Homo sapiens: one gene and its partner. The protein of the gene in region 1 purifies or fractionates together with the protein of each later gene. This does not show direct contact. Each region holds a gene or a part of one and is shown on either strand. Other genes may lie near its edges.

Region 1 (3,823 bases):
TCTACCCTTGTTTTCATTGAATCTACACCCCAATAAGTTTTCTAAATCATTGTCTCTGTAAATCAGCTGTCCTCAGAGGTAAGAATTGTGTACATGTGAATGGCTCCAGCAGTCAGGCTCAGGTCCCAAGAACCTCTAGGAGGGGGTCTACTCCTCTGTTCTTCACTCTGAAGAAGTATTTTGGGGAGGAATTTTCCAGAGGTGAGTTTGGTGGAAGAGTAGGGACAACAGTGTGAACTAGTGATAGTGACAGAGGCATATAATTGAGACTGGCTAGAATGAGAGTCAACAGGCCTGGAAATAAATGTCAAGTATTGTAAGTGCTAGATGGGAAGGATATTTTGGCCAACTAGGAGGGAAAGAAGGGATGAGATATCCTGTCCCATTCTGGAACAAATTCATACTCCTGGTGATTATGTAACTTCCATATCTTGCAAAACTTTATGGGAAAGCCATTATATAAGATTTACTTTGATTTTAAAAAAAGTTCTTACAGCTTGAATCCACACAGAAATTAACTGCTGCAGTTCCATTCTCGCCTGAGTTGACAGTTCCAAGATGCGTTCTCTGTGCTCATGGCTGGTGTAGGCAGAATCAGTAAAGTCCTCCATACGCTCCAAGATGACTTCCAATGTCACAGAAAGGTTCTCTTTGGACTGAAAATAAAGATTCTCCCGAAGAGCTTCAATATTCATCTGAGAACAAAAAGGACATCTATCCATCCATGTGAGTCAATATTCCCACCTGACCAAAATGGGCTGTAATTTCTAACAGTGCCCAGGAAAACACTAGCATTTCCTTTTCCCAAGCTGAGGGGAAATACAGCCACCAATGATATCTATATTCGCCACTAACCCAGAAGGATACATTGCTCAAAAGCCTTCAATATCCATGCAAAGCACCATTCCTAGAGTAATTAATACAATGACATTGCTATGAGATCAGTGAATACTAAGGCAGAAAGAGCATCATCCTCTAGCAACTGGCAGGAAAAATGAACCAGCCTCCAGGTAAAAGATTTGCATCTGAGAAAATGCCTAGGCAAAGTCCTGGAAGATAAGTTACACCCAAATATGAAATGTGCTGAGCCCAGGGGGAAGGATGGTGTGGAAGATGTGGGGTGTGAGAAGCACTGGGGAAGACATCCATTTTTCCTTTGTTAATTCAGCAAAGACTCTCCTAGTCACCTAACTGGTCTCCCTACATTTTGTTTAAAGTCCCCAACAGCACCTTACTGACCCAAACATCCTCTACCAGAGGGTCTGTATAATCTAAAATGTAAACCATCTGATACTGCCACCTCCCTCTAATAGTTCCTCGCCATCTATAGAGAATCAAGCCCAAACGTCTATGTAGTATAGCACAAAATCCTCTATGGCCTGTCTTTATATACTTCTCTAACAGTCTATCTCACCCCCTGAACCCCCTAACAACCTTTCACTTCAGCCATCCTGTTTGGAGTTCCTTGACTATGTGATGAACACATGCTCATGTGTGCAGTCTTTCTCTCTCAGCTTTCTACGATGCATCATGCCATTTCAACCCTGTAAAACACTACAGTCCATGAAATATGTCACACAGACAACTTGGGCCAAGAGGCAACAAGCGGTAATGATCATGATTATGGTCACAATGAATGTGATAATAAGGATACCTTACATTTGTTTAACACTTCAAAGTCCTTTCACAAATGTTATTTTAATTAATCCTTATGTGTGACCCATTTTAACATCATCCATGAAAATATCAAAGTTTGGGAAAGTCAAGATGCCATAGGAGAGTCCTTGCTTCCCCTCCTGCTCTTGGCCCAAGTTGTGTCAGGTGATCACTCCATCCTAGGTAGACAGAAACTTGTATTTAAGCTAGGAAAGAATACAGATAATAGTAAGGTATGGAATTTACAATGGGGATCTTCTCAGAGAATTAAATTTATTTTATTAATTTAAGAGAATTAAATTTGAGAATTTAAACAGAATTAAAACATAAAAATCAGTTATATTGGTCTCATACCATTTATGTTAAGGTTTTTTATTTTCCCTTTAGAGAGAAAATATACATGTTTTTAGACAGCAACTTAGTGGAGTTTTGTGGGGTTTTTTTAAAGAGGCTATTTACTGATATGGTTTCATAACATTTGTCCATATATTCATGGTACCAAATACAGCAAAGTACCCAGTTTCCCTCCATAGATTATACTCTCCATCAGAAAAAAAGCAAGATGCCAAAGAGATAATCATGGACAGTGAGACTGAGCCTATTTATAACAGCTCTGCCTCCAGCATGCCTGATGGCGAGAGGGCAGCAGCCAGAGCTGTCGGCAGCAGCCACAGGCAGAGCACTGCCCCTCCTTCACCTGCACTAGAAATGCAGCAGCAGGTGGTGAAAGATGTCTCTCACTTGACTTACTTGTTTCCCTAATTATCCTTTGACAACACATCTCCTCCTTCAGCATTTATAAAAAGGGAAGATTAGAAAAATAATCTCTAAGATCTCTTTCAGCAATAAAATTTCTAAGAGAAGGTTTGGTCTGTACAGTTTCTTTCCCCTCAGGAAGACTCAGTGGTAGGACTGGCATCATATAAACAAACCCAGAGGTGTAAAGTGAAAGGTCATGGACTTTGGGATTAGAGAATCCTGGGCCTAAAGAAGGGTTCTACCACTTACTAGCTCTCCTCCTCAAAAAAAAAAGACAAAAAACAAAAAAAAAAAAAACAGTATATAATTATATCCACCTAAAGGGCAGGTAGGGATTAAATAAAATATTTATTAAGAGCAAAAAGAGATATTCTTTCCATTACTGTCTTTTCACCCCATGTTCCTACTTAGACCTTCACACAATTAGAAATCAAAGTCCAGGGCCAGGCGTGGTGGTTCACGCCTGTAATCCCAGCACTTTGGGAGGCCAAGGTGGGCGGATCACCTGAGGTCCGGAGTTCGAGACCAGCCTGGCCAACATGGCAAAACCCCATCTCTATTAAAAGTACAAAAATTAGCCGGCTGTGGTGGTGGGTGCCTGTAATCCAAGCTACTCAGGAGGCTGAGGCAGGACAATTGCTTGAACCCAGGAGGTGGAGGTTGCAGTGAGCCAAGATCGTGCCACCACACTCCAGCCCGAGAAACAAGAGTGAGACTCCATCTCAAAAATAAATAAATAAAATAAATCAAAGTGCAGTAAAATGGAAAGAATGCCATTCTCATCATAGCCCTGTCTGTTAGAGAGGTGGGAACCTTTAGCATTTGGATAACTTCTCAGGGCCTTAGTTTTCTGATCTGTTAAAGGAGGGCATTGTACTAGATGACTTCTTAGGGCCCTCCCAACTCAGACACTGCTCTTACCCAGAAAGCATCTTCACCATGTCTATGACTTCTGATGAGAAGTCAGACTTCCTGGAGTCACACTGCCTAGTTTCAAATCCCAACTCTGGTACTTAGTAGCCAGCAAGTTAATATCCTTTCTGTTTCTCAAGCTCCTCAACAGTGTAATGGAAATAATAGCAATAGTTCTTTGAGGATTATATAAGTTCATATATTTAAAGCACTCAGAAAAGGGCTGGCACAGAATAAGGACTCAATAACTGTTAGTGTGTATTACTGTTGATTTTTAAATTTTAATTATTACTAATACTATTACTATAGTCTCAAAGTACCAACCCTCTAACACAGAGAAAAGCAGGAATTCTAGCAGAAATGATTTGCTGCTCACCATCATCCTATGGATGGTACTGCTCAAAAAGATATGGCACTGCTCAAAAAACAGGAAGGGAACATTCTTTTGAACAGGAGGCTACAGCTAAACCATACAGCTAAACAGAGCCAGAGTAGC
Region 2 (3,823 bases), on another chromosome or scaffold:
CCCAGGCCGAGTTCCTCTTCCGCACGGAGACTCAGTGAGATGGGGCTGGGCAGAGGAGCTGGGGGTGGGGGAAGATGGGCAGCCGAGAAAAGAAGTGAGACCAAGGCAGAAAATGTGTCCAGAAGACAGCCACAGCCTCATTTAGCCCATTCTGGACTGGGGACCACCATAGAGAAATTCAGACTCCTAAAACTAATGGATAACTTGCAGGAGATTGGGGTGGGAGAGGGTACAAAGTCACCACCGAGGCTTAGCATCTATTTTATACTCTTTACTCAAGAGGGACAAGGTCTGTGTAGTATCAGAAAGGAGAAGGACTGGTATGGAGTGAGCAAGGAATTGGAATACTGGTATCTGTGAGCACATGCCTCCATGCCTGAGGCAGAAACCCTTCTATGCCCCAGCTGGTGGGCACAGATGTGAATAAGACAAGTGCTGGGTGACTTTTACTTTCTGTGCTCCCATCTTCCAAACCAGTCCTCTATTGACCAGAAATCCATAGTGTTGAGAATGCTGATTTGCTCATGTTTTCAATAATAATAAAATAAAATACATTCACACAGACATACATTTTTGAGAGTATTAATAGTACCTATAAAATCTGGAACACAGTGCCTGCAATAATGAACATGTAAAAGCCTGTAGCTGTTATTGCTATTATAAAAGATATATGAACAGTCATTTAAAAGTTTGACGTATCTAAGTGTTTGAGGATCCCTATGTTGTAGACACTTTTTCAGTTTTGTCCCTTGGAAGATACTTCAGAGTGGGACCGATAACACCTGTTCTCATTTATTGAACAGAAGGACTAGTATCGGAGTTTGTGTGCAAAACAGCACATAAGTCAAATAATCAGGTGCAGATGCATGTTGTTGGTTTGGTGCTTTGGGCACTGTGCCTGGAACAGTAATAGTCCATTCCCAGTTACCTAGGCACAACTGGGCACAGAGGCTAACAGAATGCAGAAACCTTCAGATGATTACAAACCTAAGCTTGGATTACACCGTGCAACAACAACAAATAAAACAGTAGACATATCTCCCTGATCTAATTATTATTATGAAACAATGATCATCTCTGAGATAGTTAGTTGAAGGGAGATAGGCAAGCGAGTGTCAAGAATCATGCCAAATGATGGAGGGAATCTAAACTGAAATGAACACTTCGCTTAGCACAATTTCCAAAACAGAAAATCTCCAGACTTTATGACTAATGAACATTACGCCCCAACTTGGAAGATATGAGAAGCCATTAGGAGGATAATTCTGGAAAGAGAAGAGGAAAAGTAAAGTGTGACAAGACACATTCACATATAGTTCAAGATTGTGTCATGTTTCCAACCAAAAAGAGTCCTATATAGTGTTTGATAGAAGTCATGGAACTAGATAAGTCCTTCCCACAGTCTTTTGCCATCCCCATCCTTGGCCCTCCTCCTACACCCCCACAATTGATGCTATGACCCTGCTTTGTTTTCTCAGAAGTGAAAAGCTTCGGTGGATCTCAGCCTTGGCCATGCCAAGAGAGGAGTTGGACCTTCTGGAGTGTTACAGTGAGTGAGGGTCTAAGAGGGAGAGAAAAGAAAGCAGGGTCAGATGTCACCTTTGGATACAGGAGTTTAAAGGGCTGGGTGGGAACTCTAGGCTTTCATTTATTGATATTCCGTAAAATGTCAGGGTGGAAGATTGGCCTCTAGAGCTTAAAAACCTGAAATATATCGCCTAAAACTGCTCATCACTATGGCAGTCCCCCTTCCCCATACATTCCCTTCCTTGGGCAATAGTTTGCTCTTTTTAAAAATATTTGTCCCCTTAAGTCTAAGCTGACATTATTTTGCCTAGATTTTACCTGCTTGAAGGTCTTGTTGGGGTAGGGGAAGAAAGCCTGACGGTGGTAGAAGGTGTGCAGGAGGATAGCACCCCAGATCTATCTTGACCACACCTAAGAGGATGACCTGAGGTCACCTACCCCAGGCTTCTGGGTGCCCATGGGGAGCCACAGGCACACACACATTATGTATGTGTCTGTGTTCACACCAAGACTGGACTTCTTATGCCTCTCATGTCAGCCCCACAGTTGTCCTCCAGCAAAGATTCCCTAATTTAAATCCAGAGAGAATCTGACCTCAACCCTGGACCTTTAGTGACTGAAAAGAACAAACAACTACAAGGAACCCTGGGAATGAAGTAGGAGAGCCGTGTAGTAACTGAACGCTGTTAACTTGCTCACTGTGCACTCCATCTGCTGGCTTCAGTTCCCCAGTGGGTGAGGAGGGCAGGAGCATTCTTCCTCCTTCATTTTGACCTTGTGAATGGCAGATGGGGAGGATCTTGAGAAAGCAAATAGTAATGCAGTATTCCATTTATTTTACAAGAGAATCAAGGCAGTGTAGTAACAAAAAAGAGCCATAAACCCACATATGATGGAATACTGATAGGTGAAGCATTCTCTGAGGCTTGTTTTCTTGAGCTTCAGATCTATGGACATGTCTCCTGGTTCTCAAAAACATAGAAATAGAGAAATCTTGAATGTCCTCAAGATTCATCTGATCAACCTTGATCAATAACCATCTTGATCACTGATAGATGAGTAAACTGAAGCTCCAGGGCTTTCAGTCTCTGGCTTAGGTCAAACCTGGGACACCACTAGTTAAGTCTTTCTTGGTTCCACATCTGGTACTGGGAAGAAAATGAAGAATAAGACACAGACTCAGATTTTATAATCCAGTTGGAGAGGCAAAACACGTCCATGTAGCAGTTAAATAAGGGATAAATGCCTTGGCATGAACAAGCAGTCTTAAAAGAGTTCAGAACCCATTGAAGACTAGAGTCAGGGACGGTTTCAGAGGGAAGATGGGTCATTAGCTGGATCTCAGGTATTTGAGATGATCACATGTATTTCTCAACCCGTCTCCTCTGGAGAAGTGGAATTTTTGGTCCATTTCATTTCTGGTATGTCTATTTCTTTATTAACCATTTTCAAATTTCCTCTTTTGTCTGTGACTTTCAACAGCCCAAATCTGTCTCTATCTCAAGTCCTCCCACGCCACCCCCCTCCAAGTCCCTGTCTGTGTTCCAATCCCCTGCCTCTCCTAACCTCTCTTCACACTCTTCTCTTCCAAAGACTCCCCCCAGGTACAGTGCCTTCGAGCCTACAAGCCCCGAGAGAATGATGAATTGGCACTGGAGAAAGCCGACGTGGTGATGGTGACTCAGCAGAGCAGTGACGGTAAGCGGGAGCATGCGTGAGCAGCAGGCCAGGCACTGCAGGCAGGGCAGTGCTGGGAGTGTGTTCACTTCCTGCAGCTGCCATGACAAAGTACCATGGACTGGGTGGCTTATGGCAACAGAAATGCATTCTCTCACAGTTCTGGAGGCAAGAAGTCCCAAATCAAGGTGTGGGCAGAGCCACGCGTCTTTTGAAACCTGTAGGGAAGATCCTTCCGTACCTTTTCCAGTCTGGTAGCCCCAGCTGTTCCTTGGCTTGTGGCAGCATCCCTCCAATCTCTGCCTCTGTCTTCCTGTGGCTAGCTGCCTTCCTGTGTCTGTGTCCAAGTTTTCCTCCTTTATTTTTTTATTTTATGTATTATTATTATTTTTGAGACAGAGTCTTGCTCTGTTGCCCAGGCTGGAGTGCAGTGGCGCAATCTTGGCTCACTGCAACTTCCAACTCCTGGGTTCAAGTGATTCTCCTGTCTCAGTCTCCCAAGTAGCTGCGTGAGCCACCACACCTGGCTAATTTTTGTATTTTTAGTAGAGATGGGGTTTCACCATATTGGTCAGGCTGGTCTTGAACTCCTGACCTCAAGCAGTCCACCCACCTCGGC

Evidence for each region.
Region 2: the proteins of CTNNAL1 (region 1) and ARHGEF5 purify together in Homo sapiens (tandem affinity purification; one study listed by IntAct). This does not show direct contact.

What each region holds. Positions count from the first base shown.
Region 1 is NC_000009.12:108,978,787-108,982,609, forward strand, and holds part of CTNNAL1 (alpha-catulin), read right to left. Parts: intron 696-3,823; coding exon 495-695; intron 1-494. UniProt on the Homo sapiens protein: May modulate the Rho pathway signaling by providing a scaffold for the Lbc Rho guanine nucleotide exchange factor (ARHGEF1).
Region 2 is NC_000007.14:144,375,642-144,379,464, forward strand, and holds part of ARHGEF5 (rho guanine nucleotide exchange factor 5), read left to right. Parts: coding exon 1-34; intron 35-1,478; coding exon 1,479-1,549; intron 1,550-3,120; coding exon 3,121-3,225; intron 3,226-3,823. UniProt on the Homo sapiens protein: Guanine nucleotide exchange factor which activates Rho GTPases. Strongly activates RHOA. Also strongly activates RHOB, weakly activates RHOC and RHOG and shows no effect on RHOD, RHOV, RHOQ or RAC1.